Homo sapiens: one gene and its partners. The protein of the gene in region 2 interacts with the protein of the main gene of each other region in a pairwise test. Each region holds a gene or a part of one and is shown on either strand. Other genes may lie near its edges.

Region 1 (7,029 bases), about 55 Mb from region 2:
ACAAAAACAAGCAAAAAACAAACAAACAAAATATATATATATATATATAGATGTGTGTGTGTGTGTGTGTGTGTGTGTGTGTGTGTGTGTATTGGGTCTCTATCTCATTTCATATTCAAAAGTACCTTCAGTTGGAATTAAAGTCTACATGTGAAAGATAAAACTATAAAGCTAACAAAAGAAAATATATATTCAAATCCAGTATATTTGTGATTTGTGGGGGAGAAAAACTTTAAAAGTCAAAACCATCAAGCACAAAGGGGGAAACCTGATGGATTCGGATGCATCCCATGAAAGACTTCTATTTGATGAAGAGTATCACAGACAAAATTATCAGATAGATGAAAAAAGCAAGAGAATACATGTGAAAATTCTGTTGCTGAAAACCTCAACAAGAAAGCCCAATCTGAAAGTCAAAAGAAAAACATGGAGAAAAGATAAGAACATAAAATTTACAGGAAGAATCTGCTAATTTACTAATGAAGTGCAACCAAAGAATTACAAATCAAACAATGAGGTATTCCCTTTCTCCCTACTCCCACAAACTAGCAAACCTAGAGACTCTCTCAAGGAAGAGCAAGGATGTTGCTGGTGTGCGCCTTAGTAGCTCAGCCATTCTGAAAGCAAATGCAAGCCCTAGGGAAATTCAATGTACGTGTACCCTGTGACCAAAACGCCACTCTTGGCTCCTGTCCCAGAGATACCGTCCCCGGGTACAGAGAAAAACATGCGTGAGAGTTTGTAGCAGCTTAGTCATCCTTCTCAAGAGAGCTCAGTAAGTGACATGTGGACTGCATACGTGACGGGCCCCAGGCAGCCCACCACAGTAATGATCTGATAAACAGAAACCACCATGGACAGATCTCAACAACATATACAGTGGTGGAAAAGGAAGAAACAAAATGGGATTTGTGGAACAATAACATGTTTGCAAACTTCTTTTTTCTTTTTTTGAAACAGAGTCTTTCTCCATCACCCAGGCTGGAGTGGAGTAGTTGCGATCACAGTTCAGGGCAGCCTTGACCTACGGGGCTCAAGCAATCCTCCCACCTCTGCCTCCTGAGTAGCTGGGACTACAGGCAGTCGCCACCATGCCTGGCTAATTTGCAAATTTCTAAAAGGCACAAACACAAAATATGTTTTCTCAGAAGTACATATATGTTAAAAAAAAAAAAAAAGAAGGTGGATTGGAAGGAGATAGGTTACATTCATGAGGAAGTGGCTGTCTCCGCGGAAGGGAAAGAGGAACTAGCTACTGGCTGGAAGTGGGAAGTGGCTGCTTCTGCAGAGACAGAAAGGGGAATTGTTCAGAGTGCCAGGAGCTGGGGTATTCAGGCAACTGAGTCTTGGCACCTGAGGTAATAAACTGTCTTGGGTAACACCCCCACCCCCGACACATGCAGTTTAATTGTGTTCCAGTCCAACTGAGACAAAGGCTTCATCCCTCCCTGTCAATCAGAAAATGCAATGTTCTTAACTCCTATTAAATAACTCTACCCTGCTTTGTTGTTTTCACTGGATAAAAGGTTTTAAACAATCCTGGAATTTCACTCAATGGTTAGGTTGATTTAACTGCATTTATTAAACTTAGCAATTCTTGGACTATGCCCCAGGTAAAGATGAATGTCTTTCTTGACGGGAAGATGAAAAATTCAGCCAAACCTACGGGATTATTCAGATACAGCTGTAGTGCCAGGGATGGCCAACATCAGTAGGAGTTACTTCTCTAAACGGGAAAACAAGAGACTTAGCAATGGGGGTTTCATTTACTGATCATCACATTTTACAGCCTTAGAACAAAATCCTCAGTGATTCAACTTTTCGAGATAAGCATTCAAGATAAATATTAAAAGCCTAGGAGCCTGTACTTCCTTGTCTACTAGAAATGTGTTTGTAAGGAAAATGCTCTCAGTTTCTGTATTTATTTACTTTAAAGGACATAAAAGTCAAGGCTTTCAGCCTAGGCCATAATTCTAAAAGTTTTAAAACTTGTGTGGGGCCCTGACCACTGGCTCCTGGCTCCTGGCTCTGGCCTGATGACAGGAGTTGTCTGTCCCTGCGTTCCCCTGGAGGACTCAGTAGGCACTTGTGGATAGAGGTGGGAATGTGGAGGGCATTTGACAAAGTGGAGACTGTTTAAGGCAGGTCTGCACCCACTGGCAGGTCCGGCCCCACCCCCACTGGGTGCTCACCGTGCCTTCTGGGTCCACGAGCAGCAGGTGCTTGGCCTGGCCATTGTGCATGCCCGTGAGGACAAAGGAGCCCGGGTTGGTGGTGCTCTTCCTGACCAGGAAGTCTCCGTCTTTCTCCAGCAGCCCCTCTGCCTCCTTCCTGCTCATCTCTCCTTGGTACCAAGTCTCGGCTTGCAGTTCCTCCAGCATCTTGGCATCTGGGGCTCTAGGTGACACAGGGCTGATGCACTCCACGGAGGCTGCCTTGCTTAACACGGGCCCCAAGGGCTGGTTCTTGAGAGCATCTTCAAAAGGTTCTGTCATCAACAATATTGACCAGCAACAAGTCAATCCCAAGAAGAGCAAATGATAAAAAAAAAAAAAAAAAAATACAGTGAGAGAGATGGAAATGCAAAGGCAACTCCTCCAGAAGGGGAAAACAAAAACCAATGGAGACAACTAACTGGCTGGTAATATAACAAGAGCCATCATAACAAGCATTGAAAAGCACAGCCCAAATTTTGGCATGACTTTCTGATGAGTCTGCTTTCCCAAGACAGCTGGGAGTTGTGCTATGTGCCAAGGAGTCAAGCACACCCTTTGTCTAGCTAGCTGGAATGACTTCATTTTTGCATGCTGCAAGAGGCCATGAATATCACATGCCACGTACTTTCTCTGGAACTTCAGCCAGCCTCTTTAACAAATTCTGAACAAAAATCTGCCAATACCAAAGGGAAAGACAAGCTACAAAGCTTTGATTTTATGCAAAACCTGAGCCCAATCCACCAAAGGTTTATTTCAAAATCTTTGCATCAGGCAAATTTTTAAAAGAGAAAGCTGACGGGTGTTGGGTTCCTCTTGTGTGACTTGCCCCAGGCTAGGAGCTCCACCTTCCCTTAACCTTCACTTGTTTCCCTGTGGAACGAGGCTCTCACATGAGTGCCTGAGACCATACTTGGTTTCATCCCCTTCAGAGCACACTTCTCAGTGCAAGGCATGTGTGAATGGTGAGACTGCTGCTCTAACAAGAAATACCAGCAGCAAAAGAAGTAGCCAGGCATGTCTAACTAAATCCCGATGTTCGATTTTCACATAAGGTAGTGTGTATGAAAGGACTCTGAAAAATGCACAGTGCTATGCAAGTGGAAGGTAGTGCGATGGTTATTTCAGACTACGCTGTCTACCCATAAGCATACACATACATACAACATAAGCAGCACAAGAACAGGAGTGGTTCTTTCCTGAGCATAACTACACCCTCAGAGCCCAGCATTGCTCCTAGCACACAGTTCATTCAGTATAGTCAACAGATGCTGTAAAATAAGCCAAACTTGTTCGATGTTAGTACAGCGTGGGCAGAAGTGAGGTGAGTAAATGAAACTAAAATTAGCTCTTTTTGATGCTTATTAATCTTTGACAGATTTGGAGATAAAAATAAGTTAGAACCATTGGCAAAAATTATGTCTGTGGAAGTTCTTTTTCATCTGACTTTTTTCCTGATTACCTGGAATTGTCATTTGTTTTATACTGTTTCTACATCATTACCACCTTTGCTATCATCTACATCATCAACATCGTCAGCATCATCCCCAACATCGCCACCATCCCCACATTCACTTTTATTGGCACCACCACCACCATCAGCATCACCGCCATCGTCGCCATCGTCATCACCATTATCACCATCATCCCCATTGTTACCATCATAACCATCATCATCACCATCATTGTCACCACCATCACTGTCACTACCAGCAACAGCAGCAGCAGCAATAGCATCACCACCATCAACACTATCATCACTATCCCCTCACCATTATCACCACCACCATTACCATCAGCATCATCAGGATCATCACCATTATCACCATCATCCCCATTGTCATCATCATCATCATCACCATCATTGTCACCAGCATAACCATCATCATCACCATCACTGTCACCAGCAGCAACAGGAGCGGCAGCAGTAACAGCAGCAGCAGTAGCATCACCACCATCAGCACCATCAGCACTATCACCATCACCATTGCCACCACCACCACCACCACCATCGGCATCACCACCATCTCACCACCATTATCACCATCACCACCACCACCTTTGCCACCAGCACCATCATCAGCATCATCACCACCATCATCACCACCACCAGCACCATCAGCAGCAGCATCACCACCATCATCATCACCATCATCATCACTATCAACACCACCACCATCAGCAGCATCATCACCATCATCATCATCACCACCACCATCACCACCACCACCACCATCAAAATTACCATCAGCAGCAGCACCATCATCACCACCATCATCACATCAGCACCGCTATATTTAGATCTACTGGTTCAAAATAAAGAACACAGAGTGCTGGCTTTATTTAGTTCCATACTTTTCAATAGGCACCAGCCTTTCTAAGGCTCTTTTCACATCCTGTTTCCCCTCCTTAGGTTTTGAAAGCAGGAGGAGAAATTAACTGGTGGGAAAAGGGTAGCTCTGGTTCTCATTTTTTCATCCCAAACACCAGCCAATCTAACTTTCCTTAGGGTCCGTGTCCAGGAGTCATTGGTAAATTGACTATATTAAACAGTAAAAATGGTCTAACCAGACATGGAACTATTAAACTGCAGTTTGGAGGTACTATAACAACTCCAGCAAAAGCTTGGAGAGCCACCACTGTGCTTTGCATCTTGAAAAAGTGGCTTCACATTTCTCAAGCTGTTTTCACATTTTTAAAAATAAAGGCACTGGCGGGACTGAATTAGGTGATCTAGCATTGAAGGTGGCTTCAAGCATTAAGATTCTACAGTTCTTGCTTAGATTATTTTTGTTAAGTCAAAATGGGGGTCCAGTGTGTCTGGGAAGTCAAATTTGCTGGAGAGAAACAGTGTTGTTTTCATGAGGCTGCCTAATTATAAAGGCACTTAACACTGTCCTCACTCATACAAAATACCACAAATCACAGATATTGGACCAGCAAGGCTGCCTTTCACAAATGATAAAGTTAGTTAACTTCTAGGATTCTTCGTTTCCTTCTCTGTAAAATAAAGATAACAGTAGTTATCGTAATACCTACCTGTAAAAATTTAAAAATAAGTGTTTAGCACATGGTAGAAAATCATTCAGAACTAGTCTCCATTCCCTCCCTCTTCAGCCTATAAAATTCTCGAGGAATATGAAAAGCAAATTTAGCTCTTGTGAGCTTGTGATGCTCTTTCAAAATTTTTTAACAAAAATTTTCACTTTCATTAATCAGTTCATGAACGATTTAATTTCCTCAGTCTATATGACAAACAGAAAGTCTGTGGTACACATCCCACTATAATGCTATCTGCAATAGATTCCTATTACTCTCCTTATCCTGTTTAGTTTTCATAACTGAGGAGCATGTACCACTACCTGGTAATAGATACCTCCACGAGGTAGAGACTTTGCTGGTTTTGTTTTCCTGTATATCTCCATCAAGTAGAATAGTATTTGACAAATGGTAAGTGTTCAGTAAATATTTGGAGTGAGGTAAAAGGTGAGCAAGAGAGAAAAAAGGAGAGAAAAAAATGAGAGCACAAGTGGGAGGAGAGGAGAAAGAGAGAGAAAACCCTCATAAGAGAGAGGTGTGTTGCAATTTCTTGCCTATATGTTAAATGTTGGTCTGCTTCATAGACCTAGAGATCCGTGGAAACACGGGCCATGCCATTTCATCTTTGCATCCTTAGCAACTAATACAGTAGCTGGCACATAATAGCCAATTACTATTTAAATGAATAAATAAACATTTGTGTATGTATATTGTCTCAATACATTTGCAGATCTTCAAGAGGAACGTCAATTCCAAAAAGAGGGGGAAATTGCTCTGTCTCTTGACTACAGAGAGGGCTATAATCCTAAAGCCTTAAACAAACCCAATCATCACCCAGAAAAGTACAGCTAATCATCACCATTAACCAAAACCCTACTATCAGAAAATTCAGTAATTACACAGATTTCAAATAAAAGGCAGGATAAAAAGCAACCTCAAAAGAAAAGAAAACCAGAGACAAACAGAAACCCACTCATGTCAAAGAGGTCTTTCCTTGGGCTGCTCTCAGCACTGCTGACCGCAGCCGGCCAGGCCTGTGGTGGGATCTGCTGAGTGTTGACGTAGGTGGGTGCTTCTCCCGTGGGGGCCACGTGCAGTTTCCCTTCTGGCGTGCTGTAGATGTCCGAGGACCCTGCAACAAGAAAGTGAGCCCCTTTTCTTTTACGATGGTGACACTATTCAAGCCACCCAGCCTTTCACAAAGAAGCTCTTCTGCCTGCAAATGGGAAACCTCCTCCTTCGGATTCCTATGGGTGATATTCTCCTCTTCTGAGCTTGTCACCACACACTGCTGTGACCCAGCTAGGATGTTTTCCAGTCCTTCATATCAGCATGGGGTCTGCCAGCCAATGTCAGGGTGGACACCTTGATGGCTCCACTGTGATGGCCTTAGCAAAAATTTTGGCCCTTGCTGCCCCAAGACCGCAGGAGCCTGGCAGGCAGAACATGCCTGACCTCCTCTCCTTGACAAATGCTCCAAGATCAAATAACTGAGCAGAAGGACCACAAGCCTTATATTAATTGCTCTTGTTTTCTTTTTAAATATAAGCAAATGCTTTATAAATTAACTTCATTCAAGCAATACAATAGAAGCTCTGTACCTCCTAAGGAACTGAGAGAGACTCCTTCCTTATAAAATAGGGCTGCAGTTACTGCCCCTGGGTCTGTGAAGGAAGCCCAGGGTGGGTGTGCAAGTGAAGAGCCCCCTCTGCTGAGGCAGTGATGCTGCCTCGATGTGACTTCACAGCTAGCCAATGGGTGTGCTGAGGCTAGGCCA
Region 2 (5,724 bases):
ACCAGCCTACCTCATGACACCCTCACTAGTCACGTGTTCTACCATAGCTTTTGACTGCCAATCAAGATTATGTTCAGTTGATGACAAGCAAAAGACAGGTATACCTGTTCATACTCTCCCTTAAGGCCTAGAACCCTGCTCTCAGTTCTTGGCTTTGCTTCAGATTGTAAAAGTCCACTGAGATTTGGAAAAGAAATTACCCTGCCCTGGTATCCAGTGGACAGGGCTCTGTGGGACACTGCCCTATCCCTAAGTCTCTTAAGGAGCTATAAGAAAAGCCAGGTTAACTTTGATCAACATGGCCTGGGCCCTGTAAGGAGGTTTAGCTGTCCTTACAGCCATTGTGATTTGGGCCAAGAGGGTCCAGTAAAAAGGAAAACCATTTCAAGCCTTTATAGCCTGTGTCAGAAGACTATGACCATGTGGGATCTCCTTTAGCCCTGTGAAGTCCAGGGCTTCTGCCCTGAGCTGCCCTTCAGTCACACCACACAGAGACCATGCATGCTCTCAGAACTTTATTAGGTGGGGATTGGGCAAGAGAAAACCCCTGAAACAGTTGCCCACGTGGTTCAAGACAACTAGAATGGAGATGTGTTGCTTGGAGATACCTTAGATTTTTAAAGGGGAGCTGACTGGCTGAATAACTCAGATTATTTTTTTTTTTTTCATGGTCAGCCAGTCTCTAGTAAGTCTCTAGGGACATGACCAGACCAGAAGCCCCTGTTCTATATGAAGACAAACAGGTGGCCATACTTGGGTGGAGGGATACCGCTGCTATTCCCAGATGAAGATTTGGTGGAAGGAGACCATGACAGATGACAAACGGAACAGTTTCTCAAAAACAGAGGTATGAAGTAATTACACAGGAAAGAAAACAATTTCCAAAGGAGTGAGACAAGTCGTGATTCTTCATTGGTACCTGACCCCTATACCCAAACAGCCTTGAACCAGCCCTTCCAGAGACTGCCCCTAGTGGCCCACTGGGCAGTGCAGGCTGTGAAGAAGACCTGAAGGCAGATGGGGTGGGGGTGCTTATTTTGCTACAGTGGAGAAGGGGCTTGAATGGGGAGGGCAGACCTGGCTAACATCTGCCGCCATCCCCCAACTCCCCCCCAGACTTCTATCACATTTACAAATACATACATAAATACATTACATACAGTAGCCAGTCTGGGAGGCAGACTCCCCACAGAGGCATGGCTGACACATGTCGGGAATTCTAGGAAAGGGCACTGGGCTCCCAAATACGTGCTCGTGTGTTCTCTCCTGCCCAGGATAAGCCTTGCCCCAGCCCACCCCTCTCTTCTGGGTTTAGTTTGTCCAGTATGGAGAGTTGCCGTAGGCAGGTTTGGAGGCTTGAGACTTGGGCTGCAGGGAGCTGGGCTGGCTGCGCTGACCCGAGCCACTCTGAGGAAGAGGAGAAGGGAAGGCTGTCAAGGCTGGAGCAGAACCCCTGGCCCAGAGTAGGGTGGCTGCCTCCATCACTGTACTCACCTGTGCATCCTGCGGAAGGTGGTGGTGCAGCAGCTGTGAGTGGGGCTGCTGGTGGGCTGGCAAGATGTGTAGGAATGGTGGGGGTGCATAGCCAGGGGCCGCTCCCGAGGCCAGGGGCCCAGTGGAGCCCAAGACCGAGGGCAGGCTGAAAGGTGGAGGCGTCCCTGCATGAAATCCCTGCTTGTCAAAAGTCTACAGGGCAAAGAAGACAATGGTGAAGGTCAGGTTGGGCTGTAACCTCTCAAAAACCTATACACCCAACCCACCTTTGTCCCTCACCTGTGTCTTATTGTAGACAGAACCAGTCATATCAGGTAGACCAGTGGTGCTTGAAGACACTGATACTCCTAGGAGGAAAAGCAGTTGTTCCCCACAGCAGTTGTTCCCAGCTCCAGGCTCCCCACCTCCAGGATCACTCAGGGGTTGCCCTGCCTGAGAGGGGATCAGGCAGGAGCCCACCACTCCAGGCCTTATCCTGGAAAGGAGAGGTAAACACTACCTTTGCCAGGCCCAGAACCTGCAGACTTGTTTGGTGCCTGCGATGATCCAGCATAGCCACCTTTGGAGTAGTCTCCTGCTGCTGTCCCCTGGGTCAGGTCGTCATAACCTAGCGTGGCAGGGTACAAGAGGCAAGTGTGAGCCAGGCAAGCCTGTCTAACCCCATGTGTCTCTGTCTGGGAAGTACCCCTCACCTGTACTGTAGCCGTGCTGGCCATAACCACTGGCCTGCTGGAAGGGAGGTGTGGGAGTGCTGAGGTTCACCCCATGTTGCTTGGCTGAGGCTGGAGGGACCTGGGGGGGCAAGCAGATGAGGTATTAGTGTAGGAAGAGGCAAGCTGAGGCTGGTCAGGTACCCCTGCCAGAGCCTAAGGCAGCAGGTGACATACCCACAACCACAGGGGACCTGTGTTTTCATTAGTGCAACACATGCTGGATCTAAACACAGCAGGGGAAAAGTGACCTTGTCCCCAGCCTGAACAGTTTCTGAAGACCAGGTAAGACGGAGTGGAATCACAACCCTCCCTCCCTGCTGGAAGATAGGTCCCAGGTTTCCACCTGCCAGCAACCCAAGGCCAGGAGACACAGTCACACCCTCTGAAATACTCACAAACATGGTGGGGCCATACTGGAAGGCACTGGGCATGCCTGTGTAGTAGGGAAGACCAGTGTAGCTATAGCCAGGTGGCAGTGCAGGATTCACGAAGGGCTGCTGGGCTGTGTGGTGGGTCTGTGATTGGCTCTGCTGTGGCTGAGCTGGTGTGGTAGCGGGTGCAGGGGATGCAGAGTCCCCACGGCCAAACTTTGTGACATCACCTAGGAAAGAGCACTGACTCCAGCCACTGCCCTTCCTCCAACCAGAGAAAGGCCACACTGGCTTCTGCAAACAGGAACAGGTCTGGCTGCCAGCTCAGCACAGGCTACTAAGAGGCCTCTCTCAGCTTGCTGTTGCTGCTTCCCAGCTCCTGGAGTTCGCGCTAGGCCGGCCCCGGGCTACTCCTCATCCATTGAGCAAACTCACCTGGATATGGATTATTAGCTAGGCTCCCATCTCGGCTGGCAAGCGCTGTGGGTGCAGCAAAGGGAATTCCATAGTAGTCCTAGGAGAGACCAGGGAGGCTTGATCAGCGACTGGCCCTGCTTGACTCCCAGGAGAGCAGAACCAGCACATGGAAGTGGTGACGCCACACTCCTGAAACAGACTCCATGCCTGAGAGCCAGCAGTCCCAGGGAACGCCAAGTAAATGGTGCCCCTCGGAAGAGTGTGCAACTAGGCGGCCTGCCTAACACATAAGCACACAGACCGGCCAACCCTGCAGCTTCACCAGGCAGAGCTGCTGGAGACCAAGCCTCACACATCCATTTGACACCACAGGCAGGTGCTTGTGTGAATGCCTCGGGCTGAACCAACTTCGCTGGCTTTTCTGTGTGAGAGACTAGAGCAGCTAGGAAAGCTGACTAAACAGAGCAGACCTGAAAAAGGAGGCAACAGAAGTGCAGGGGCCTGAAAGGTTTAAGGGGGGACAGGGGGCAGTGCCAGGTAGGCACGGGAATAAGCAGGACCCCAGGTGAAGCCCAGAACTGGCCTGTCACCACCTACACTGCTCTCAAAACACTGACATGGCCTAGGACAAGCTTGTCCAACCCACGGCCCATGACAGCTTTGAATGTGGCCCAACACAAATTCGTCTTTCTTAAAACATGAAATTTGTTTGCAATTTTTTTAAGCTCATCAGCTATCTTTAATGTTAGTGTATTTTATGTGTGGCCCAAGACAATTATTCTTTCAATGTGGCCCAAGGAAGCCAAAACATTGGACACCCCTGGCCCAGGACTTGGGGGAAGTATGGCAGATACAACAAAGTGTGGAGACAGAGACGGCAAAGCACAGTGGAGCTTCGTGGAGGAGGGGAGGTCTGACCTGACCCTCACTCACCATCCAGGGCCTCGCACTCCTGGACACACCTGGCCCCTGAGGAAAGGCAAAGCCCTTGGGCTGTGCCCGATCCCAGAAAGGAGCCATCCTGGCTGGGAATGGCACTCACACCCTCCAGGAAACCTCCCGGAAACCCATAGCAGCCTAGAACCCCCGGAAGAGGCAGAGCTGGGAACACACAGAGCTGCACAACTGAGGACGGGAGCAGAGAAAGCCCAGAAGGGGGAGCACTTTCACAGAACACGAGAATTCTCCAGGCAGGAACTAGGCTCACAAGCAGCAGAGGTGAACAAACAACCCGAGGGATAGAAAGAGCAACATATCTCAAAAGGTGGGCTCCAGAGGGTGTTTTCTCTAAGGCACAAAGTGATAAAAGCCAAAAGAGTGCTGTGAATAAGTGTGGAGACCACGGAGAGCCCCTGAAGCAGAATGAATCCCGGGGCTCAGCACCACCTCCTGCAGTTTGGGCCTTTGGCCGGCAGATTAAAGGGCTGCTGGTTTGCACAGTGGGGAGAAGCCGCTCCGCTCCCAGGCTAGGCCTCTGCTTCTGGAAATACGGCCAGCCAGTGGAAAGGGCTACTCTTCTGAAACAAGAGCAGCTCCGTCAGCTCTTTGTGGTGCAGCAGAGAAGGGAGCAACACCCACGGGGAAGAAGGCATCACTGCACAAGGGAGAAAGCCTCTTCCTCCAGCAACAGGAAAGACTGTATCCAGCAGAGGTGGTGTCCAAACTGCCTGCAACTCTCTGACAAGTGCCCTGGGAAATGGCAGAGCAAGAAGACAGTGGCTCCCAGGAGGAAGTCCTGCCCATGGGCAGGGCAAGGAGCGGGCCTATTCCCCTCTGTCCCCACAGTTCTGTTCATGTGGCTATCCCAGGAAAGGCCCACACTGCATTCTGGCACCAACGGTCAGAAGAAAGAGGCAACCCTGGTCTCAGAGTAAGGCTGCAACCACCAGGGACGTCCCAGGGCAGGCATTCTCACAAATCTAGATGGGAGGCCAGACCCAGAAGAGACCTTAAAGACCATCAGCTCAAGCCACTCACTCAGCTGATTGCAGAAGAGCAGTCACTGGCCATCTCAGACCAAAGACACTATATGGTACTCTGAGGAAGAGGAAGACAGTATAAAACTCCAGGGCCACGTAAGCAACCTCCATGTCTTGTGTCATATGGTTTTTCTTTTTAAAAAAGAGAGAGAAAACAAGATGGAGGAGGGAAGATAAGGACCAACATTTAACAGGGGACATGGCCTACCAGGGCCCCAGGTCCCAAAGGCCTTCATGTTTCCCAGGGATGAGCACTGGATACTCTGTGCTAAAGCTATGGTCACGCCTGGCACAACCGCCAGATGAAAACAGCTTTCTCAGTAGTGGTGCTGAGAGGTTCCTCAGGCAGAGGATCCTAAGGGCCAGAGAGTGTGGCAGCCAAGACCATAAGAGGGGGGACATGTAAAAGATTCTGAACCCTCTGCTCCGACCAGTCCATACCCCACTCACCACTGGCAGCCGTGACTGCAGCATCTGGAGCTCGTCATAGCCATAGATCTGTGTGAGAACCAGAAAGTGTATTTTAGGAACCACATACCACACCCTGGGAAGCCCAGGTCCATCTAGGAGTCAAAACAAGGTTGGGGGGCTCTAACACACCCGGGAATGGGATCTGGATTAGCTGTTACGGGAACAGATCCTGCCTTCACGGAGTCTAGATGGAAGAAGACCACCAGGGCTCAGTGGGGCAGAGACGGGGGTGCTCAGGGATGGAAGGGCAGCTCAAGGTGGGCAACCTGGGCCCAACGC
Region 3 (7,029 bases), on a different chromosome or scaffold from region 2:
TCAAGAGATCATTTTCTTGGGGCAGGAGGAGGAAGGAGTTATGCTTGGAAAATGTTCAGCGATTATAGATAACATTCAGGAACATCTTGGCCTTGAGAAGAAGAGATATTAATCCATTATTTTTCCCTTTATTTAATAGCTGTTGAATGACTGTTGTCTGCTAGGCACTGTTGTAGACTCTGGGAATATGGAAAACATAATCGTTTACTTCCTACCATCAAGTGGAAAAGACAATAAAATGTTATAAATTTTTAATGTCTGGTAGTGTTAAGTGCTTTGAAGAAAAATAAAGCAGGATAAGAAGATAATGCCAGGGGAGCCATTTTAAATTAGATGGTTAGGAAAGATCTCTCTCAGTTAACACTTGATAAGGAATCTGAATCATATGAGGGGTATCAGAAAGGGTCAAGACAAAGGGAAAACTTGAAGTATGGGAATAGCAGGGGTGAGTGAAGAAGAGAGGTAGGAAATGAAGTTAAATACTTGGCCAGGGACTGGAGGCCAGATGATTTTATAGGTCTTGCTTTTTGGGATGAGAATGCATTGGAAGGTTTTGAACAGAATGATACTAGGTTTTACTTAACAGTGTTAACTCTGGTGTTCTGAGACTAGATTAAAAGTGGGCAAAGGTAAAAAGCAGGCAGACTGGTTAGGAGTCTTTTCCAGTCATTTAGGCAAGTGATGATGGTGGCTTGAATCAAGTTGATAGCAGTGAAGGTGCTGAAGTGGTTGGACCCCAGAGTTATTTTAAAGGCAGTGGCAACCATATTTTCTTGGCAGTTTGGATGTAAGGTTTGAGAGAGAGAGATCAACCAAGATTTTTTTGTCTTATACAACTCGAAGGAAGATAAAGAAGCCTCTAGGAGAGGCAGGTTTTAGGTGGAAGATCAGGAATTTATTTTTAGATATATTAAGAAAAATCTAAATGGTCATGTCAGATGAACAGTTAAATATGAGAAAAAATAATAGTAGACGTAAAATAAAAGCTTATTTTATTATCCCTACAGTAAAATAATGTTGCCTCCAGACCATTTTAACATAAATATGGTAACATGGGGATAATGAATCTTTTGGAGGCTAGAGTTTCTTAGCATCTAATAGTAGCTTTGCTCTCAACTTTTACGGTATGTTTTGTTGTTTAATTATCAAAACCACTTTTATCAGTCTTTCTCTAGAGTTGTATATATAGAACATCCTGGAGTCCACCATGAACGGACAGTTGGATCTAAGTGGGAAGCTAATCATCAAAGCTCAACTTGGGGAGGATATTCGGCGAATTCCTATTCATAATGAAGATATTACTTATGATGAATTAGTGCTAATGATGCAACGAGTTTTCAGAGGAAAACTTCTGAGTAATGATGAAGTAACAATAAAGTATAAAGATGAAGGTAAGAGTGTTTTTAAAGCTATTTTTTAAAGTCTTTTTAAAAAAAAAAAAAAAAAGACAGAGCCTCTGTTGCCCAGGCTGGAGTACAGTGGTGTGATCATAGCTCAGTGTCACCTCAAACTCCTGGGCTCAAGCAATCCTGCCTCGGCCTCCCAAAGTGCTGGGATTACAGGCATGAACTGCCATGCCTGACCTTAAAGTCTTAAGTATTGTATGTGTTATTTTGCCCATTTTTATTGGACTCTTTCCCATCCTCTCTTCACGGTAGTTGAGACCTCACTTTCTTGTATTGAATGTGATGTTCCTATAGTTACTATAATTCTCTCATCAGTTAAAATTAGCTAAGTGGGGCCGGGCGCAGCAGCTCATGCCTGTAATCCCAGCACTTTGGGAGACCGAGGTAGGCGGATCATTTGAGGTCAGGAGTTCAAGATCAGCCTGGCCAACATGGCGAAACCCTGTCTCTACTAAAAATACCAAAAATTAGCTGGGCGTGGTGGTGTGCGCCTGTAATCCCAACTACTCGGGAGGATGAGGCAGAGAATTACTTGAACCCGGGAGGTGGAGCTTACATTGAGCCAAGATCGTGCCACTGCACTCCAGCCTGGGTGACACAGCAAGACTCCGTCTCAAAAAAAAAAAAATAGCTAATTGGTTTATTAGAAGGGAATTTTAAGTGTTAGAACATTTTCACATACATTTTTTTTACAAGCATTATTTTCTCCTTTTGTCCATATAATTCTGGTTTCTTTTAGCTTAAAAAAATTTTTTTTCTATTCTTATTTCCCGAAATGAAAGGTTTTAGTATGTATTGAATGAAAAAGGATTTTATGGTCAACTAAGTAAGGGAAAGCTGGTTTAAACAAAGACAAAAGTGTTTCTTTATTGTAGGAGTTTTCAGATTATGTAATATGCTTATATACATTTTCAGAAGTTAGTAGTATGCAGTGTTCCCAGACTCATTTGTTGACAAAATTATCTTTATGGAAATAGGTTTTGAATGAAAAATGTTTCGGCAAACACACTGAGTAGAATTATAGTAGTAGACTGTATTTCCTATTCTTCAACCTGCCTTCTTTGTTAATATCTCTGCTGAAATTTTCTCTTTAGGTGGTTACCAGTGTTTTTTACTGTGGAACTTACTTGCAGTGTATTTAATCTTGACCTCACTGTTTAGCACTGCTACCCACACCATCCTTGTTTTTAAATACTTTTACCTCTTAACATCTCTGACACTGCTTAACCTAGTTTTCTTATCACTAACAGTTTTTTCTCTGTCTGTGTTAGGGTTGGGCTTAAAGTAATGCCAGCAGATATAATAGAAATCTTAAAATCTGAGTGGTTTAATAGTTGAGAAATCTTTCAGGGATCCAGGTTGAAAGAAGCTGTTACCTTCAACACATGGCTTATAAGCTCACCATAGGCATTGACATTGGCAAGCAGATGAGTGAAGACAGAGTATGAAGAATCATATGGGAGATTTTACTCACTAGGCCTGATGGTGTTGTATGTCATTTCTGCCCTTATGACATTGGTCAGTACCCAGTTACATGGCTTTGCTAAGATGCAAATGGGTTGGGAAGTATAGTCCCTGGCTGAGCAGCCACTTAGCACAACTTATACTGTGGAGGAGAAGTGTAAATCACTGGTGATCAGTTAAATTGACCATCTAGCTAAAGGTATAATTCTCCTTTGTTTTTGTGATGTGTAGTCTAAGAATACCCAAAACAAATTTTTGAGAGTTGCCCATGTTAAGAAACAATAAAGGATAGTACTTTTTTCCTGTTTTCTTATGCTTATCATACATTGATTTGCACCTCTGTGACTTTGAAATGTGTGTCTTAATTTGATCAGTGAATTTTTTTTTTTTTTGAGACAGGGTCTCACTCTCATCCAGGCTACAGTGCAGTGGCATGATTATAGCTCATCATAACCTTTAACTCCTGTCCCCAGGCAATACTGCCAACCCGGCCTCCCAAAGGCATAAGCCACCATGCCCAGCCTACAATTCAGATTTTTAACTTTTTTTTTTTTTTAGCAAAGTCCCAAGAGTACTTTTTTTTTTAAATTTTGTTTTAATTGACAAATAATAATTGTACATATTTATGGGGTACATAGTAATGTTTCATTACATATAATGGGATTAGATCAGGGTAATTCGCATATCCATCACCTCAAATATTTATTTCTTTGGGTTAGAAACATTCAATATTCTCCTTCTAGCTATTTGAAATTATATAATATGTTATTGTTAACTGTAGTCATCCTATAGTGCTATAGAACACTGGAACTACTTCTATCTAGTTGTACTTTTGTGTCTTTTAATAAATCTCTCCCTATCCCTCTTTTCCCCTACCCTTTGCAGCCTCTACTGTCATCTGTTCTGCTTTTTACTTGTATAAGATCAACTTTTTTTAGCTTCCACATATGAGAGAGAGCATGTGGTATCTTTTTAACTTAATGTCTTCCAGTTCCATCCATGTTGCTGTGAATGACAGGACTTCATTCTTTTTTATGGCTGAATTGTATTCCATTGTGTATATATACCATATTTTCTTTATCAGTTAATCTGTTGTTAGACACTTAGGTTGATTCCATATCTTGACTATTGTGAATAGTGCTGCAGTAAAATGTGAGTGCAGATTTCTCTTCAATATACTGGTTTCCTTTCCTTTAGTTAAATATTCAGTAGTGGCATCGCTGAATTGTGTGTTAGTTCGATTTATAGTTTTTTGAGGAACCTTCATACTGTTCTCCCTAGTGGCTGTACTGTTGACATTCCTACCAATAATGTGTAAGAGTTCCCTTTTCTCTTCATTCTTGCCAGCATTTGTTATTTATCTTTTTGATAATAACCATCCTAACTGGGGTGAACCTTGTTGTGGTCTTCATTTTCCTGATATGTGTGCATTTCCCTGATGATTTGTGATTTTGAGCATTTTTTCATATATTTATTGACCATTTCTATGTCTTTTTTTGAGAAATGTCTGTTCAGATCATTTGCCGATTTTAAAATCGGATTGATTGTTTTTTAGCTGTTGAGATGTTTGAGTTCCTTCTATATTCTGAATATTCATCCTCTGCCAGATGAGTAGTTGTATTTCCTCCCATTCTGTAAGTTCTCTTTTCACTCTTGATTGTTTCCTTTGCTGTGCAGAAAAGTTTTCCAGTTTGAGATAATCATATTTATTTTTGCTTTTATTGACTGCACTTTTGAGGTCTTATTCATGAAATCTTTTCCCGACCTATTAAAGAGGTTATCCTTTTCCTAATGAGTGGTCTTGTCAAAAGTCAGTTGGCTATAGATAACATGGATTATGTTCTTTTGTTCTATGTGTTCTATTGATCTATGTGTTTGTTCTCTTGGTCAATGGGTCTGTTTTTATGTCAGTTCTGTTGGTCTGTGGGTCCGTTTTTGTGCCAGTCCATGCTTATTACAGCTTTGTAGTATATTTTGAGGTCAGTAAGTGTGACACCTTCAGCTTTGTTCTTTGCTCAGTATTGCTTTGACTGTCTGGGGTTGTATGTAGTTCTGTACAAATTTTATGGTTTGTTTTTAAATTTTTATGAATAATTTTATTGGTAGTTTGATAGGGATTGAATTGAATCTGTAAATTGCTTTGAGTAATTTTGTCATTTTAACAATATTTGTTCTTATATAAGCATGGGATGTCATTACATATGTATGCTCTTTGGTTTCTTTCATCAGTGTTTTTTTTTTTTTTTGTAGAGGTTTTTCATCTTCTTGGTTAAACTGCTTCCTAGATATTTAAAAAAATTTTTGTAGCTGTGGTTAATGGGATTGCATTTTTTATTTTTTATTGTATGTGTATAGAAACACTACTTATTTTTGTGTACTTATTTTGTTTCTGGCAGCTTTATTGAATTCATTTATTGGTTCTAAGGGTTTTGGTAGAGTTTTTAGGTTTTTGTTTATATAAGATTATGTCATCTGCAAACAGGGACAGTTTGCTTCCTTCCCAATTTGGATACCTTTTATTTTTTTCTCTTGCATAATTGCTCTGGCTAGTACTTGCTTAACTGTCTTTTTTTTATTTTTTATTTTTTTGTCTTGAGACAGGGTCTTGCTCTGTCTCCCAAGCTGGAGCGCAGTGGTGTGATCATGGCTCATTGAAGCCTTGAACTCCTGGGCTCAAGCAGTCCTTGCAACTCAGCCTCCCGTGTAGCTGGGACTGCAGGCATGTGCCACTGCACTCAGCTTCTTATTCTTAATGTTTATCAAAATGGGGGTCTCACTGTGTTGCCCAGGCTGGTCCTGAACTCCTGGGCTCAAGCGATCCTCCTGCCTTGGCCTGCCAAAGTACTGAGATTACAGGCATGAGCCAGTGTGCCTGGCCTTTAACTGCCTTTTTTCCCACTTGAAGATGCTTTGCCTTTATCTCAAACTGACCTCATTGACTGGCTTTCTCTTAACTACTGTTTAGGGCAAAGGTCAGCAAACATTTTCTTTAATAGATCAGAGAGAATAAATATTGTAGCTTTGTGGGTCACATAAGGCCTCTGTCTCATCTTTTTTTTACAATGTAAAAACCATTTTTCATTCACAGACCTATAACAACACAGGGATTTTGTCCGTTGGTCACAGTTCATGGACCCTTAGCTTGAGGTGTCCTCGTTGTAGTTTGTCTTCCACATTTAGTTACAACTTTGTATTTCATGGTTTTTTTTTTTTTTTTTTTTTTTTTTGAGACAAAGTCTTGCTTTGTCGTTTAGGCTGGAGTACAGTGGGGTGATCTTGGCTCACTGCAGCCTCCACATCCCAGGTTCAAGTGATTCTCCTGCCTCGGCCTCCCAAGTAGCTGGAATTATAGGCACACACCACCACACTCGGCTGATTTTTGTATTTTTAGTAGAGACGGAGTTTCTCCATGTTGGCCAGGCTGGTCTCGAACTCCTGACCTCAGGTGATCCGCCCACCTCAGCCTCCCAAACTGCTGGGATTACAGGTGTGAGCCACCGCACTTGGCCAAAAAGTTTTTGATTGTTTTGATTTGTGTCCGTTAGATTCTGTTAGTAGAGTGGAGGGATGGCTTAGGTAAAGTTCCTGCCATCAGAGATACTCTGTTTCTGTTGTAGGATTCAGAAAAGAAAAAAAGAACAGGAAGTTTTCTTCTTTTACATACATACTTTATTTTCTTTAAAAAATGTGTTTATGAAAATTGAACATTAAACAAGTATGTTATGGGAAGTGGGTCTGGCTATAAGGAGCTAAAAACAGTTATAAAATTCTCAGTTTTGTCATCTTTGCCCAAAATAAATCCAACTAATTAGTGTTAAAGTAGGTGCAGCAGAGCATCCCAGAAGTAGTCTTGTGGCCTCCCCAGGACAGAACTCCTCCCCACCCAACTGTTTGTGAAGACACCCTGCAGAGGTCCCTGATGAACTCCTTGTCTCTGGCTGCTTTTCTGTTCTTGCTTTCTTTAGAGAATGTATTTTTCCCTTAGCCCTTTGAAAGCTTTTGAGACACACAGTTGGTATGCCAATTATAGCATTCTTTATCCCTGAGATCTGGGGGATTTCACGGTCATAAATACACACTGTTTTGAATATATAAATATTTTTCTGGGGAGAGTTGATTGTTTTCATCTTAATATCAAAATGGTCAGTGACCTGAAAGA
Region 4 (7,029 bases), on a different chromosome or scaffold from region 2:
GAAACAGCAAAAGAACTAACATTTTTGTTTGAGGGGCCTTTATCCATTCTTACACAGAGGCTAGGATAATTTTAGAGCATTAAGATAATATGCAAAAAGAGCAAACGTGTAGCTTTGAAATTAACTCTGGGATTAAAAGGAAAGCATGTAAACAACTAGCTATGTTTTGTTAAAGATTTATAGGAGCACTGCGACCTGATCAAGGACAAAGATGTTCCCAACCTCCTAGGACCTTCACTGGTGCCCAGATGTCACTGGTCCTTGGTTACCTCTTGATCCCAACAGCCTCTTTTTCCCACTGCCCTTAACATAATTAAGAACCCGAAACCTGTACTGACTTAGACGGCACTTTAGACACTTATCTACCATCTTCCTGGTTTGCTGGCTCTCCAGATAAACCTGCCACCAACTCTTGTCTCTCGTATTTGGCTTTTGAGCAGTAAGCAGCCAAATCTGGGTTCAGTTACAACTAGACATAAAATTTTTAAAAGAAAATCTAATTTTATTTCTCTGTATCACCAGTCTACAAAGGAAATGCAACTTATTTCTAGTGAATCACATCAGCTGCTGTAGTCTTACTGCAGCAATTCAGGGCAAAAATTAGCAGCAGACATGATAAGAAAAAAAGAAAAAAGAAACTTCCGTGCATCAAAGGGCACAATCAGAGTGAAATGGCAACCCACAGAATGGGAGAAAATATTTGCAAGTCATATATCTGAAAAGGGGTTAGTCCAGAATATATAAAGAACTCCTGCAACTCAAAAACAAAAAAAACAAATAACCAGGTTTAAAAATGGGCAAACGAGTTGAACAGACATTTCTCTAAACAGGATGCACACAGCCACAAACATAAAAAAAAAAGGTATTCAAGGTCACTAATCATTAAAGAAATGCAAATCAAAACCACAATAAGATACTACCTCACACCTGTTAGGATTATCAAAAAAAACCAAATACGTGTTGGCGAGAATGTGGAGAAAGTGGTACTCTTGTGCACTGATGATGGGAATATAAAATGGTCTAGCCACTGTGGAAGACTGTATGGCAGTTCCTAAAAAATGAAACATAGGATATCATATGATCCAGCAACTCCACTGCTGGGCATATCTCCAGAAGAATTGAAAGCAGGGTCTTGAGGAGAGATTCATTTGTACACCCACATTCATAGCAGCATTATTCTCAACAATCCAAGTGTCCAGTGGAATATTATTCAGCGTTGGGAATGAAGGAAATCCTGTCCCATGCTACAACATGGATGAACCTTGAGGACATTATGCTGAGTCAAACAAGCCATTTCTAGGCCAGGCACGCTGGCTCACACCTGTAATCCCAGCACTTTGGGAGGCCGAGGCGGGCAGATCACTTGAGGTTAGGAGTTCGAGACCAGCATGGCCAACATGGGGAAACCCTGTCTCTACTAAGAATACAAAAATTAGCCAGGCATGGTGGCTGTAATCCATGGTGCTTCAGTAGTGCCAGCTACTCAGAGGCTGAGGCACGAGAATCGCATGAACCCAGGAGACAGAGGTTGCAGTGAACTGAGATCACACCACTGCACTCCAGCCTGGGTGACAGAGAGAGACTCTGTCTCAAAAATAAATAAATAAATACGCTATTTCTGGCCAGGTGCAGTGGCTCAAAACTCTAATCCCAGCACTTTGGGAGGCCGAGGCAGGCAATATGGTGAAACCCCATCTCTACTAAAATTACAAAAATTAGCTGGGCATGGTGGCCCATGCCTATAATCCCAGCTACTATGGAGGCTAAGGCAGGAGAATCACTTGAACCCAGGAGGTGGAGGTTGCAGTGAGCCAAAATCGTGCCATTGCACTACGGCCTGGGTGACTTTGTCTGAAAAAAAAAAAAAAAACAAAACCAAATAAGCCATTTCTGAAAAGCCAAATACTGTATGATTCCACTTATGTGAGGTCCCTCGAGTAGTCAAATTCATGGAGATGGAAAGTAGAAAGGTAGTTGCCAGGGGCTTGGGGGAGGAGAAATGGGGAGTTAGTGTTTCATGGGGACAGAATTTCAGTTTTACAGGATGAAAAAGTTCTAGAGATCTGTTACACAAAAATGTAAATGTACTCAACCCTACTGAAGTGGACACTTGAAATGGCTAAGGTGGTAACTTTTGTGTTCTGTGCTCTCTACTACAATTAAAAATAGAAAAAAAAAATTTTTAAGTAACCAGAAGCTGGAGGACCTAGAGCATGGGGGGACTGTCACCCGCAGGCTGTCCTCATAGGAGATTTACAGTGGGGAAGGGAGGGATAGAAGGCTAGAGGACAGCAGGTGCCTGGGGTGCACCTCGTCACCTTTCCTGACACCCCCAAACCACCGATGGCCCTTCCAGGGGGCGAAGAGACCCACTCTCTTCATAAACATCAGCCCCCAGCACCCACCACCACAGAGCAATGTGACTCAGCCCTGCAATGGCAGGGTCAGTGTCCCAGGTGAAAAGAATCGGGAAGGACAGCTTATGGTCACGGACCTTAAATGGATGAGGAGTGAGCACAGGAAATGCTGTCTGTTAGTGAATGGACTGGCCAGGATGGATTGCAGGCTGCTTCCAGCCCCTGTGCCAGGCTCCCTGTGGTGGCAAGACGCCCCCCCTCCCCAATCCCTGCACCCTCTCCCTTGGCGGAGCACCGCCTTGGAAACCCGAGACTCCATGCCGTGCTGGCGAGTTCCCTCCGGGACTCACGTTCTGCCCCTAAATCCCACCCACTGCTGCCACATAATAGGTTGCCCCCTCCCTAATGCAGATGATTGACAAGCCAGTCTGACAGGGCCTGCTCACAAGGGCTCCCTCCTCCAGGGTGGAACCCAGGCAAGGAACAAGGTCCACGACCATGCAGTCACAGGCCCTGTCCCCAGGCTCCCCGTCATGCACACAGCCGTGTCCAGTGACACCAAACTCTACCGACTCACACAGAGTCCAGTGGCTGCAAGTCCCATGCTTTGCGTATGCTGTTCCTTCCCCTGCCTGGAAAGCTCTTCTCAGCCCCATTCCCCACCTTGCTTCCGGCTGAAATTCCTCGACTGAGGGGACCCCTGCTCCTTCAGGAAGCCTCCCGAGCATGCAGCCCACCCCCCCACGCCATCTCCACACTATTGCCCCACCACCAGCTGATCAGCATTCTCCCTTCCCTGGGCCTTCCCTAAGGCCATCCCCTGTCACCTTGGGAATAGTACCACAGCTAGCCAGCCTCCCCACACAGGCTGCTCGTGCAGGTATCTGAATGAATAAGCACTCCCCAGACGCATCTTCCCCTGCCAGACTGAACTTGGACCCCTGCCGCTAGGTTCTGTCCCCTGCTCCACTTTCCAGCCCAGGACAGTGGCCTGAGACCTAACATGATGCTTGCACACTCTGGCCAAGCGGGGGCTCGTGCATCCATTAAATGAAGAACTTGTGTTGCAACAAGAGCCAAGGCTGCAGCCCTGGTGACTCATGACCCAGTCCTGATGGCTGGATTCTACCCACTTCCTCCTCTGCTTCAGGTCAGGGTCACGGTGTTACACACTATGGCTCCTCCTGTTTACCTGCCGCCTGCAGGCCTGAGCTCATGAATAGCCAAGCAAAAGCCTTTGCCCTGAAAACTAGAGTTTCACAGATGTCACCTATGTATCTACTGCAGACTACGGCAGACGTCACCTTGAGAAGGAATGACACGTGCTTCAGAACGTTCTCTCCACTCTTCCACCCACGATACGACCTTACTGGCTAGGACCGTGTGCCAGGTGTGGACCTTTCTGGACCCCAGCTCCTCTTCCCCTCTCTTGCCCCTTTGCTGGGGCCCCGACACCCTCCCATCTAAGGCTGTGCCCTGCCCCAGGACTGACCTGTCCTTTGAGATTAGGAAGCCCTGGCTGAACAGGTCAAGTGGCTCAGGGTCAGCCTACCCTCAGGGAGCAGACTCTACAGGGGCAAGCTGCAGGAACCACCCTGCTCGTGAGTTCAAAGCTCGTCTCACAGCTTACCCTCTCCAAACCTCGGCCTCCTCTCTCCTCAAATGGGTGCTGTGAAGACTGAAGAAAATCGTGCCTGGCCACCTGTAAATGCTGTGAGTAACAGGCACTGCCATGGCTCCAGGATCATTGCTGTCATTATTACCCTACCAGTCCTGTGGGGAGGGCAGGTGCGGGTTCTACCATCTCATCTTTGTTCCATAGCAAGCCCCCCAATCTTGCATTCCAGCTCCAGTAACTCAATCCTTACCTAAGTCGGGTGACTGATTGAGTCTCTGCCCAATTTTTCTGCTCAGTTCCCGGGCCCTCTGAGACCAGAGCCCCTCCATCGCTCCCTGCCTTGCAAGCCACCCAGCAGTGTGCCGGGCCATCTCGCCAGCTGGCTGCTGCACAGCCAGGTTCTGCTGGCCGGAGACCACCAGCAGCTTGAAAGCAGCCAGGATGTGAGTATTTAGACCAGGGAAAGCAGCAAAGCAGACTTTTATTTTTGTTTCTTTTTCTTTATTTTCCCCCTAGGCAGCTGGTTTGCCAGTATCTCCTCAGTCATCCCAGAGCCAGAGCCCCACTCGTTGGGCCCAAGTGGCAGCTCTGTGCCCAGGCCCGGCCACCCCCTAGAGAGCCTGTGTCTAGGAGGCAGCTGGCCTGCTGGCCCCTGCACACTGCAGAGCTGGGCACCTCCAGAGCCCATCCTCCACACTGCCCTGCCTGCACCCACACTGGCGGGCCTCACTTGACCCACACAGGGACTGCAACCATAAAAGCAGCAGAGCCACTTGCCCCCAACCCCGCCCCGCCGAGCCTGGGGCCTCTCCAGGGTCAGGGCCCACTCCAACAAAGAGCATTCTCAAATGCCACCAGGGACACCTTCCAGACAAAGCTGATCCAGTAGCATGCTGGCTTTGAATCCAGGTCAAATACCCAAGATGCACCTTTTTTCCTATTTTGTTTTCTTATTGTTTATTTATTTATTTTTGAAACAGGGTCTCGCTGTCACCCAAGCTGAAGTGCAGTGGTGTGATCAGGGCTCACTGCAGCCTCAACCTCCTAGGTTCAAGTGATCCTCCCACCTCAGCCTCCCAAGTAGCTGGGACTACAGGCCCATGCACCACCACCACACTGGATAATTTTTGTATTTTCTGTAGAGACAGGGTTTCACCATGTTGCCCAGGCTGGTCTCAAACTCCTGGGTTCAAGTGATCCTCCCGCCTTGGCCTCCCTAAGTGCTGGGATTACAGGCATGAGCCCCAGGCCCAGCCCAGAATGCACTCTTAAATGTTGCTGGAGTCAGAAATTTTGTTCCGAGTAAATCACCAAGGGGAGTCTGGGGTCCTGGCTGCAGAAATGTCATTTCTGCGTCAAAAACAACCAGCAGCCTCTGTAAGAAGCCCTCCCTGCAAAACCCCAGTAAGCATTCTTGAAATGGTGAGGGTGGGCCCTCCACCCTGACCCACCCATAAAGCCGGGCTGGGGCGGGCGAGCACACACTTGGGGAACCCACCCTGGAAGAACCAAGGCAGGCACCGGAAGCCCCCAGGGAGGGTTTTCTGATGCTGCTCTCAATGGGCTCATCCTCAGCTCTCAGGGAAAAGTCAAGAGTCCTGAGTGACATAGCCCCCCAGGGTCCCAGAAAGCTAAGGATTCATGAACACGCGCTGACTGTCAGAACTGAAAAGGCCTTAGAAATGCTGGACGATGGGCTGGGCGCAGTGGCTCACGCCTGTAATCCCAGCACTTCGGGAGGCTGAGGCAGGCGGATCACCTGAGGTCAAGAGTTCGAGATCAGCCTGGCCAACATGGCAAAACCCCATCTCTACTAAAAATACAAAAATTAGCTGGGTGTGGTGGCATGCACCTGTAATCCCAGTAATAATCCCAGCTACTCAGGAGGCTGAGACAGGAGAATCGCTTGAACCAAGCAGTGGAGACTGCAGTGAGCTGAGATCGTGCCACTGCACTCCAGCCTGGGCGACAGACTGAGACTCTGTCGAGAAGGGGGGGGGAGGGGAGGGGAGGGGAGGGGAGGGGAGAAGAGAAGAGAAGAGAAGAGAAGAGAAGAGAAGAGAAGAGAAGAGAAGAGAAGAGAAGAGAAGAGAAGAGATGAGATCCTGGATGATTAACACTCCCAGAAAAAGCCAAATGTAGCATCCATTCATCTCTGCCTGCTGTCCAAACCACACACAAGTGACGGTAAGGGAATAAAATGGGGGCTAAATCCACAAAGACAAAGAGACCACAGAGGAAAAGATAAATGAAGGATCTCATGGTGACAACTAAAGACAGTGTACGTGACAACCCCAGCACAAAGAGGGTGCCTAACGCATGGCACTTAACCACTATCACCAAATTTTAATAGCGCAGCTCAAATTTCAGTTTTAGTGTCCTTGAAACCCAAGGAAAAAAAATATGGATCTTTATTTTTCTATGTAGAAACTCCCACTTACAAGTCTGGGCTCAGTGTTTTGTTGCTACAGTGATATTTTTCAACCATGTCTTTTTAAATGTTTTCATTATGAATCCCCAAAATATAGTTTGTCGGTAAACTTGAGGTCAAACAGCAGACTGATTTTAAGATGTGTTCAATGAAGCAAAAATGCCAGTATTTGCCTTCTTAGAGGGACAAAATGGTCAAAACTCAGTAAGAGTGGAGAAAAGAAAGGGAAAGAATAAATGAAAGCAGAAGACAAGGAGAAAAGAGGTGAAAATAGGTGGGCTAAGGAGTAAAGGAACTGGGAGAAAGGACCGAAGGTGTCAGGAGAGCTTGGTGAATAACAGGCATTTCCTTCCACCTGCAGGACGCTAAAACCACACTGGATTCGCTGCATTATCCTTCAATGTCTCCTCCCCTGACTCCCTCATCACTCACCCAATTATCTGCTACCCCGACTCCTCCCTTGCCCCTGGTCCACCCCAAAGGCTATGGCCCAGGGAGCATGGGGAGGGTCCCCCAGTCCCACCCTCAAGGCACTGTGGGAGCTCAGGCCCTGACTCAGGACCCCTGAGCTCTGATCCTGCATCCTCCCTGTCTCAGTTAAGGGACCTGAGGGACGCTTTTCA

Evidence for each region.
Region 1: the proteins of UBAP2 (region 2) and SHC3 interact in binary tests that used the Homo sapiens proteins (3 or more experiments, as listed by UniProt).
Region 3: the proteins of UBAP2 (region 2) and TFG interact in binary tests that used the Homo sapiens proteins (3 or more experiments, as listed by UniProt).
Region 4: the proteins of UBAP2 (region 2) and ASB13 interact in binary tests that used the Homo sapiens proteins (3 or more experiments, as listed by UniProt).

The regions. Positions count from the first base shown.
Region 1 is NC_000009.12:89,035,801-89,042,829, forward strand, and holds part of SHC3 (SHC-transforming protein 3), read right to left. Parts: intron 6,385-7,029; coding exon 6,226-6,384; intron 2,489-6,225; coding exon 2,193-2,488; intron 1-2,192. UniProt on the Homo sapiens protein: Signaling adapter that couples activated growth factor receptors to signaling pathway in neurons. Involved in the signal transduction pathways of neurotrophin-activated Trk receptors in cortical neurons.
Region 2 is NC_000009.12:33,921,193-33,926,916, forward strand, and holds the end of UBAP2 (ubiquitin-associated protein 2), read right to left. Parts: intron 5,473-5,724; coding exon 5,425-5,472; intron 3,093-5,424; coding exon 3,014-3,092; intron 2,809-3,013; coding exon 2,603-2,808; intron 2,287-2,602; coding exon 2,187-2,286; intron 2,102-2,186; coding exon 1,994-2,101; intron 1,842-1,993; coding exon 1,774-1,841; intron 1,687-1,773; coding exon 1,495-1,686; intron 1,408-1,494; coding exon 1,312-1,407; 3' UTR 501-1,311; downstream 1-500. UniProt on the Homo sapiens protein: Recruits the ubiquitination machinery to RNA polymerase II for polyubiquitination, removal and degradation, when the transcription-coupled nucleotide excision repair (TC-NER) machinery fails to resolve DNA damage. May promote the degradation of ANXA2.
Region 3 is NC_000003.12:100,712,479-100,719,507, forward strand, and holds part of TFG (protein TFG), read left to right. Parts: intron 1-1,164; 5' UTR 1,165-1,207; coding exon 1,208-1,391; intron 1,392-7,029. UniProt on the Homo sapiens protein: Plays a role in the normal dynamic function of the endoplasmic reticulum (ER) and its associated microtubules. Required for secretory cargo traffic from the endoplasmic reticulum to the Golgi apparatus.
Region 4 is NC_000010.11:5,656,567-5,663,595, forward strand, and holds part of ASB13 (ankyrin repeat and SOCS box protein 13), read right to left. Parts: intron 1-7,029. UniProt on the Homo sapiens protein: May be a substrate-recognition component of a SCF-like ECS (Elongin-Cullin-SOCS-box protein) E3 ubiquitin-protein ligase complex which mediates the ubiquitination and subsequent proteasomal degradation of target proteins.